Linked DNA regions of Homo sapiens: region 1 is reported to be linked to region 2. The links are microRNA targets in miRTarBase. Many come from high-throughput screens and were not tested one by one. Region 2 holds a microRNA gene; the other region holds the end of a gene's coding sequence.

The links. The annotated mature microRNA hsa-miR-4483 reads GGGGUGGUCUGUUGUUG and lies in region 2 at 2,110-2,126, opposite strand. An mRNA with a match to its seed (bases 2 to 7 or 8) in the 3' UTR can be bound and repressed. Matches are read on the target gene's strand: a 7mer-m8 pairs with bases 2 to 8, a 7mer-A1 pairs with bases 2 to 7 and ends in A, and an 8mer does both.
Region 1: the mRNA of KLF16 is a reported target of hsa-miR-4483. Seed matches in the 3' UTR shown: 7mer-m8 at 3,267-3,273.

Annotation. Positions count from the first base shown.
Region 1 is chr19:1,850,888-1,855,271 of GRCh38, forward strand. KLF16 (KLF transcription factor 16) reads right to left here. Exons shown (of 2, transcript NM_031918.4): 2 at 1,512-3,873. The coding sequence ends at 3,572. Among named protein-coding and RNA genes, the nearest start is that of REXO1, 4.6 kb to the left of the region's middle. RefSeq lists enhancers at 3,054-3,610, 3,611-4,168, 4,169-4,384.
Region 2 is chr10:113,775,891-113,780,274 of GRCh38, forward strand. It overlaps MIR4483 (microRNA 4483), which reads right to left and starts at 2,164; the gene lies at 2,103-2,164. It overlaps PLEKHS1 (pleckstrin homology domain containing S1), which reads left to right. Exons shown (of 13, transcript NM_001395068.1): 12 at 1,234-1,369.

The DNA.
Region 1 (4,384 bases), not on the chromosome of region 2:
AGAGAGGCAGGAGGGAAGAGCAGGGAGAGGACGGGGCAGGTCATGCAGAACCCTATGGGCCTCAGGGAGGACTTGGGCTTTGACTGTGAGGGCAGTGGGAGCCATGGAGGGTTGCGGGCAGAGGAGGAACCAGACTTGCCCCAGGTGTTCACGGACACCCTCTGGTGGCCGTGGGGAGGACAAACCGTGAGGAGACCAGGGCCAAGGTGATTGCACTGGTTCAGGTGAGTCGTGAGGAGGCTAGACCGTCGCGGTGGAAGCCCTTACAGCAGGGAAAGGCGGCCAGATCCTGGATCTATTTTGAAGGTAGAGCCCAAGGAGGTTTCAGATGGGCCAGATGTGGGTGGTGAGACACACAGTGGGGTCCAGGGTGACTCCCCAAGGATTTTGGCCTTGCAGGATGGAACTGCCCTCGACCGAGGAGGGGGCATGGCAAGAGCAGCCTGCGGGTGGGAGGGACGCCCGGGAGGGTCGGGGTCCCAAAGGCACCAAAAGGATGGTGCTGCTTCTGGGCACGTGTGTGTGCTGGGGGTGGGGCGTGTAATTTAAAAGCCTAATGCGAGTGTGTCCGTCAGAGAGAGGGGTGAGGCTGCGAGTGTAGACCCCATATTCTAGACATTTTGCTCCAGAGGGGCAGAAAACCAGGCAGGAGCTGGAGGGGTGCGAGAGTCCCGGGAGTGATGTTTGTGGGGCGTCCGGTAGGATGGGAGGATGGGTCGGGCAGGATTGGGGGTGCACGAGGGAGGCTGCCCTCGAGTAAAGCCGGGAATTTGCCGCCCAGGTTGGGGAGGGGTCTGGCGTGAGCCGGCGCCGGCCGCGCGATACGAGAGGCCGACCACCCCCTTCCCCGGGCGGGCAGCAGGCGAAGCCCCAGGGCTCAGCAGGTGTGTAGGAGTGGCCTGCCCGGCCCCATCCCAGCCCCGCCGGCCTCCAGGCTCTGGGGAGCGCTGGAGTCCACAGTGGTTTTTTCCTGGGGAGGGCCTCAAAGCTCTCACCGCCCCCTCTTCCCTATTCCCACTAGGGGAGCTGGCATACAGTAGGCGCTCAATACAGGAGCACAGGAGCCTGGGAGGCGGCCGGGGGACCCTCCGTGGAGGAGCCTGTCCCGCGCCGGCGAGCAGCCCCGGGGGCGCAGGCTCCCCCATCCCCTGCGGCACCGGAAGGGGCGGGCGGTGGACGCCCCCGGGCGCCCTGTCACTGTGCCTCGGTTGCCAGGCAACGGGGCGGGCGGGAAGCTGGGCGGGGGGCGCAGCTGCGCCAGGCGTGGGTGACACCCGGCGGGCGCAGCGCGCGCTGCTGCAGGCAGCCCCCTCCGCGGGGCTTAGGGCTAGGGGCAGGGCATTTTGTGTCTCAGCCAGAGGGGCCTGGCCAAGACCCCCTTCACTAGCCCGCTGCCTCGGTTTCCCCACGAGGTGGATGAACTTGGGACCACACTGGTGGGTGGGACAGAGGGATTCAGAGCGTGCCCACAGGTGGGGACTGCCACGGGAGAGACCACACACACGCTGGAGTAGGGTTTAAAAAGGGGCTTGTTTAATTAATTAAATACAAGGATGAGGCCAGGCAGGGCGGGGGAGGGGCGCCACCCACGGAAAGCACACGCCTCTCGGAGCCGCCTCCCCTGCAAACGGCTGGAACCAGGTCCCAGTGATCAGCGACTCCTGGGAGAGTGGAGGGGTGGGCGCAGGTCTCTCCAAGCCCCTGGACACTGGAGAGGGGCCCAGTTATAGAGTTCTGGAACCCACAGCCCTACCTACCCCTGCTCCAGACAGGCCCCTGCCAGGGCTGGGGCCAACCAAGACTCACAAAGGAAAACGGGGCCCCAGTCCCCCACCCACCCCCACAGACTAAGGCATCTCACTAGCGCTGCCAGAAGAGGGTTTGAGGCTAGGGACAGAGAACACAGAGAGCCGAGGGCTGGATGGGGCAGGACCCTCCGAGCCCAGCTCCAGAAGGGCGTCCCCTGCCTCCCTCCCCCCAGGATCCCAGGCACCCATCCCTGGATCCTGCCAGGCCGGGGCTGGGTCCAGGTGCACACCAGTGCCATCCAAAGCCCCCCTGTCCCCAAGCGAGAGGCAGGACGGTTCTGGAACAAAAGGGGGTACCAAAAACCTCCTGCAGCCAACAGTGGGGGGATCCACCTTTCTGGGTCTGACATGGAACCGGGGACCCTTCTCATTCCAGGCTGGGGGTCCTCAATACCCCCCCCAAGAGGAAATGCAACCCAGGCCACAGCAGGACGACCGCTGACAAGGACACAAAGGTGGCCCCCGAGGAACAAGTCCCCACCCCACCCAAGTTCAGCTCAGAGACCCCCCACACACACTCACACCCCCTGAGGATGCCGGACCACCCATGGGGGCCCAGAAAAAAAGGAATCCGTGCCTGAAAAAATATTCTACCCGGTGCAAAAAAAACGAGCTACCCCAGGAGGCTGCACAGCCAGCCCTCTGCTTCCAGTCCACGAGGCAAGACCTCAACCACGGGCCAGGACCCACCTCTTCCAAGCACCCAGGAGAAGGAGGGGAGGCCAGGGAAGCAGGGCCGGGCCAGGCTGCAGCCCAGGCCCGGAAGAGCCTGCAACCCCGGCGGGCATGGGCTCCACGGCCCCACCTGCAGGCCAGGGAGGGCAGCGCAGCCCAACAGCCGCAGTCGTCGTTAAGGGAGAGTTGATTGTCACGTGATACCGCAACGGCCAAAGTCAGCAAGGCAGGGACTGGAGGCCCAAGCCCGGTGCCAGCCTCCCCTGCAGCCTCTCTCACCCACCCACCCAGAGAGGGCGAGCTAGGGCCCCCACACCCGAGGACAGAGGAAAATAAATAAGCCAGGATTCCCTCCCGACCCCACTGAGTCAAATGTTCTTTGGAAGAACCCAGAGGTCCCCTCCCTCCCCATCCCAGGTCTCAGAAGCAACACCTGGAGCCCCTCCGGGCATCCTAACGCTGCCCCACTCCTGGCTCTACCCCCGAGGTCTGGGGGGCCAGGCAGCCCCTACCGTGGGCAGAACTTGTGGACACCTGAGATTGAGTACCCGAATGGGGGGTGGCTGGGCTGCACCCCCATTTCCCTGAACTACTCCCATGGCTTTCGGTGGGGTGGGGGTGGGGTGGGGAGAGGCAGGGGCCGTGTCAACCCCCGACTCCTCTATGGCTGTCTGAACACTTCATCCCAATCTGCAGGGATGGGGCAGGGGGTGCTTTCCCCGGGCCGGCTCCCAGAAGTCCACTCCACCCCCCCAAACCCCACCCCGGGAGGGGGGCAGCAGGGGGTGGTGGAGAGGAGAGGGGAGGACCTCCTAGCTGCCCTGGGGGGGCCCCGTTGCACAGATGGGAAGAAAGTTAGTATCATGGCTATTTACAGACACAAGCCCCCGTCACCCATCCTGAGAGCCACCTCTGAGGTCAGGCAGACCCAGGTCCAGTCTCAGGCCCCCTCCTCACTCTCTGGAGGGGGGCAGGGGTGTCTTCAGGGTTTGCCCACGGCTGGAAGGGGCCCAGGCTCCCCGTGGGTCCTCACTACACCCCTGGATGGCAGAAGCATCCTGGCGGTCAGGGTGGGCTGCACGAGGGCCCTACAGGCCTGCGGGGGCTGGGCTGGGCGCGGGGCTGGGCGCAGGGCTCCCGGCCAGGCTGCAGGGCAGCGAGTCGCTGGGGGAGGTACTGCGGGCACCAGGGCGCCGGAGCAGGTCCGGGTGGAAGCCGGGGTGGCGGCGGGCGTGCTTGGCCAGGTGGTCACTGCGGGTGAAGCGCTTGGAGCACAGAGGGCAGGAGAAGCGCTTCTCGCCCGTGTGCGTCCGGTGGTGGCGGGCCAGCTCGTCGGAGCGGGCGAACTTCTTGTCGCAGCCCTGCCAGTCACAAGCAAAAGGGCGTTCCCCTGGACGGAGAGACAGAGACAGACAGCGGGTCAGCGGGGGCGGGGGGAGATGACAGACACGTTCCAGCAGATCCCAAAGGGTGGCGGGCATTTGTCCCGTGCCGTTTTAGAGGCTGAGCTCTGGTGTGAGTTCAAAACATGGAGAAGCACAAAGAATACAACCCTTACCCGCCCCCCGGTGGCCCAACACGAGACCCTAATAAATAATCCTCTTATTTCCTACCAGCTCTTAGAAAGGACTCTCCGGCGAGCCCAGAATCTGTTAACCGTAAGTAACCGCCGCAGACCCCCAAGGCTGAAGCTCCCCAGGCCCTCGCAGCCTCTGGCCCCAGGCGGGACCCTGGCAGGGATTAGCAAAGGCCTCCCAGTGTCTGTCCCAGGCACAGGCACGCTCAGAAGGCATGCTCGGCCTTCAGGCTGTCCCTGCCCCCCACCCAGGGGCATGCAGGGGCCTCCATCTGTGCATGATCCCCTCCTTTTCCAAATGACCACCTGGGATGCAAAGGCTGGG
Region 2 (4,384 bases):
GGATTATAAATGGGGCTGGAAGCTTTGAAGAGAACAATTACATCTTGAAACAGTGTATTTGGCAACACTGACTAGGTTTGGGGCGGGGGAGCTTGGACTGTTGACTGGCTGTTGTTACAAAAAAATCTTTGAGGCAGAAATCAGGGTCTTGTTGTGCAGAAAAGTCAGCCTGGAGGTGAGCAGGGGGAATAACAGGACCCAAAAGTTCAGGAAGCAGCCATTTCTGACTCCTCTAAGGGAGGAAGAAGGGGCTGGGATACAGGTGGCCCAAGGACATCATTTCCAATCACTGTACAATGAGTATTTGATGAATGAGTGAAATTAGTGAAGTCAACAAGAATCAGAGGCCTAAAAGAAGAAAGCACATCAGCTTCTAAGACTTCCAGACACAAGGTTAAAAAAAAACAAAAAACAAAAACTGCTAGTCACAGACACAGACACAAAAGACTGTGTGGCAGAGAATTTTCTTAAAGCAATCACTGTCTATTTGATATGGCATTTTTTTAAAACACTTTGTAATTTATTTTGATGGAAGATTTCATCTTCATAAGGGAAGAAAACTCTTTAATGTAAACACTACACATTAATTGTCTTATAAGTTCTAAGAAGGGAGGAAACACACCTTCCATTTTTTTAAATAGTCCACAATCTAAGGCTCAATACACACTTGACTGAAACTGTGGACTCCTCCATAACTGAGCTGCTACATTCCTTAATTCATTTATTTGTTCATTATATATTCATTGTATAATCATTACACCCTCACTTCCAACAAACGCTGAGCACTCTTTCTTTACTTGGAACCATGGGGTTTTAAAAATTAAAAAACAAAACAAACAAAAAGGTGACATCATACTTCTGGGGTCATGTAACCTGGTAAGAAAAAGACAGCCACAAAAACAAGTAAATGTAAAATGCATTTTATTTAAAAATGTAACAAATCAGGTACTCACACAATGTAATAGAAGTCCAGGGGTAGGGGAGATGAATTATAGCAGAGGAATGGGATGTAGGATTTCATGGGCCTTTGTAAGGGTGGTATAATTTGAGCTGGGCTTTGGAGGAAGGGTTAGGCTCCTATTGTAGTGACAGAGGAAACAATATTCTAAACAGAAGGAGATAGTCTACTTCAGAGGTGGTGCCACGTGACCTAGAATCAGGAGACCCTGCGTGCCCTGCCCTCCTGGCCAGCTGAGCCTCACACTGGTATTGGATGTTGTATTCCCACTGCAGTGTGTCTCAGTGGGAAGGCCCCCCACGTTTGGGATGCATATTTTGCCACGGAGATCATCTTCTGGCAGTGAATGACCTGAAACCCCAGAGCCTGGAGGAGGTCTCCCTGTTTCTTACCCGGTCCATCCAGAAGGAGGTGAGTCGTACTGACCAGCCCTGAACAGGGCAAATCAGTACCAGAAGGAAAAAGATCAGGGTCTTAGATGGAGTCTGAGAAGTACCCTGAATACAAATAAGGTTCCTCATTCTTCCACCATCAAGTGCAAATAACAGAATGTGCTTTCAGGACTCTTTCAGGATTCTTTCATATCAAGTAGCATTTGGAGAAGGCACTGAGCTAAGAGACAGAGCACCTGGGTTCAGGACCTCAGATCGGCATGATGTAGCAAAAAGAGCTTGCATGGAATCAGACTGGTGCAGGGATTCCAAAACAGCTCCTTCAACCAATTTGTGCCTCAGTTTTCTTTTCTGTAAAATTATGACTAATGATGGTGCTGGTTGTTGGATAATTAAATGAGGTAATATGTGTAACGTGCTTACAAAGGTGACTGGCACATATTAGGTGCTCAATAAAGCTACTAGTTACTTTTACTTCTACTACAACTGACCATGGAATGTTATTCAAGCCCATTTTTTAAAGCCTCAGTTTCATTATCTCAGAAATCGTCACAGCCCTAACTTCCTCATAGAATATTGCAAGAATTAAACATAATATGTGGTGCTGGGCACGGTGGCTTACACCTGTAATCCCAGCACTTCGGAAGGCCAAGGCAGGAGAATCAATTGAGCCCAGGAATTCAAGGTTACAGTGTGCTATGATTGCACCACTGCACTCCAGCCTGGAAGACAGAGCGAGACCCTGTCTCAAAAGAAAAACAACAACAGACCACCCCTAATATTATATGGGTATGCACTAAGTATGTTGTTTTTTCAAGGACTAGCTATTGTCCTGCATATCACTGCAGTCTTCATGTGTTAATTCCTTCCCTGGTCTACTTTTCTTTCTAACTAGCCCTGTGACCTTAGGAAATTCACTGCCTTCTCTGGGCTTCAGCTTATTCTCACTAAAGTGAGAGGCTGGTTTTCAAACTGTGCTTCTTGCATCCCCAGGATGGAGGTGAAAGGAGAGGAGAGGAAGGAGAGAGTATGCTGGGTCTTCAACTGGAGAAGCTTACATTTATCTTTTATCTTTTATGAAAAAAAGATTAGTCCAAAATATTGGACTTTCCTGTTAGCTTTCCTTAAAAAACAGTTCTTTGGCTTCAAATTTCTGAAAACCATTGTATTAGATGATTTCCAAATTTCTTCCAGCTCTAGGAATTTTGTGATTGTGTAGCATATCTATATTAAGAACACATCTTATCTCTTCTGCACTACGTAATAATCCCATTGGTCACACAAATTGTGCCATCCCTATTACTCATTACCCTAAATGAGTAATTCCAGTGAGGATAAGTGAATGAGTTGTCTAAGATATATAACTAGTTAGTGGCAGGGCAAGTACACATTCGTTCACTTTCTTTTTTTTTTTTTTTTTTGAGACGGAGTCTCGCTCTTTCGCCCAGGCTGGAGTGCAGTGGCGCAAACTCGGCTCACTGCAAGCTCCGCCTGCCGGGTTCACACCATTCTCCTGCCTCAGCCTCCTGAGTAGCTGGGACTACAGGCGCCGGCCACTACGCCCAGCTAATTTTTTGTATTTTTAGTAGAAACAGGGTTTCACCGTGGTCTCAATCTCCTGACCTCGTGATCCGCCCGCCTCGGCCTCCCAAAGTGCTGGGATTACAGGCGAGAGCCACTGCGCCCGGCCCATTCACTATTTATTGAGCATCTGCTGGGTGCTGTATACTGTGCTAAATTCAAGAGCTACAAAAATGGCCTCAGCCTGAGCTGAAGCTCACAGATTAGTGGATGAAGCAGGCATGTTATGTGCTACTTGCTATACAGTGTGTGCCCTGAGATATGAACACAGGGCCATAGGATCACAGAGGTAGAATGGAGTAAATCTACATGAAGGAGGCCAGGAAGGTGTCTCAAAGAAAGTGGTGTTTGGCTTAGGTTTTGAAGACTGGATAGGAGACTGCATGGTGGAAAAGAAGTAGATTTCAGGGCCCTAGTCCAACAATCTGGTAACTATAGTACATTTTCTCTGCCAAAGATCCACACTGGGCTGGGTGTGGTGGCTCACACCTGTAACCCCAGCACTTTGGGAGGCGGAGGTGGGCAGATCATGAGGTCAGGAATTCGAGACCAGCCTGGCCAATATAGTGAAACCCCGTCTGTATGAAAAATACAAAAAATTAGCTGGGCATGGTGGCGGGTGCCTGTTATCCCAGCTACTGGGGAGGCTGAGGCAGGAGAATAGCTTGAACCCAGGAAGCGGAGGTTGCAGTGAGCCGAGATTGCACCATTGCACTCCAGCCCTGGGAACAGTGTGAGACTCTGTCTCAAAAAAAAAAAAAAAGGATCCACATACACTGGGGCCAAGTGGTCAATATAAGCTTCTGAACTCTTCTGAAAGTTACCAAACACTACTCTGACCCAAAGATCCAGGCATTAATTCAGAAGCCAAGAAAAGGGTTTTTGCCTGTGAGCAGATCCAGGAACTGTACCTGGGTGTTGCTGACTGCAGTTTATCCTGACTGCCTTTCTAGACTGTGGAGTCATTGCATTTCTCTTGTGCTCGTTCTGCCTTCCCTTTCTAATTGATAACAGCCCCTACATGCTATTGAGAAATATGCAGTATTCATCTTCATGATTATCTGGAAGATAGAAAATTCCCTTACTTTCCCACTGCCTCCATTCCTGATTTCTTTGTGTTGATGGGTATCCACTGCTCTTTTAAAATTCAAACACATAGTCCCTGGAAGGAAAAAGAATATTGGAAAAGGGAGATATGGAACCAAAGGAAGAACAGCCATTGGCCCTTGATGTTTTAAAGTGCCTGAGCCAATCCCATTTACTCTCCTTCCTGTTATGCTACAGATGAGGGAAGTGGAGGTTGGGGTGGGGATGGGGCAGGGATTGGGAGGGGAGAGAACTGAGATTTTCAAGGGAAGGGGAGAAGGTGTGTGCAGGGGAAGGACATGACAGGTTGCAGGAGAAACTGATCAAGTTTAAGTTTCCTCCCAATCTTGTCTGGGGGAGTCCTGTC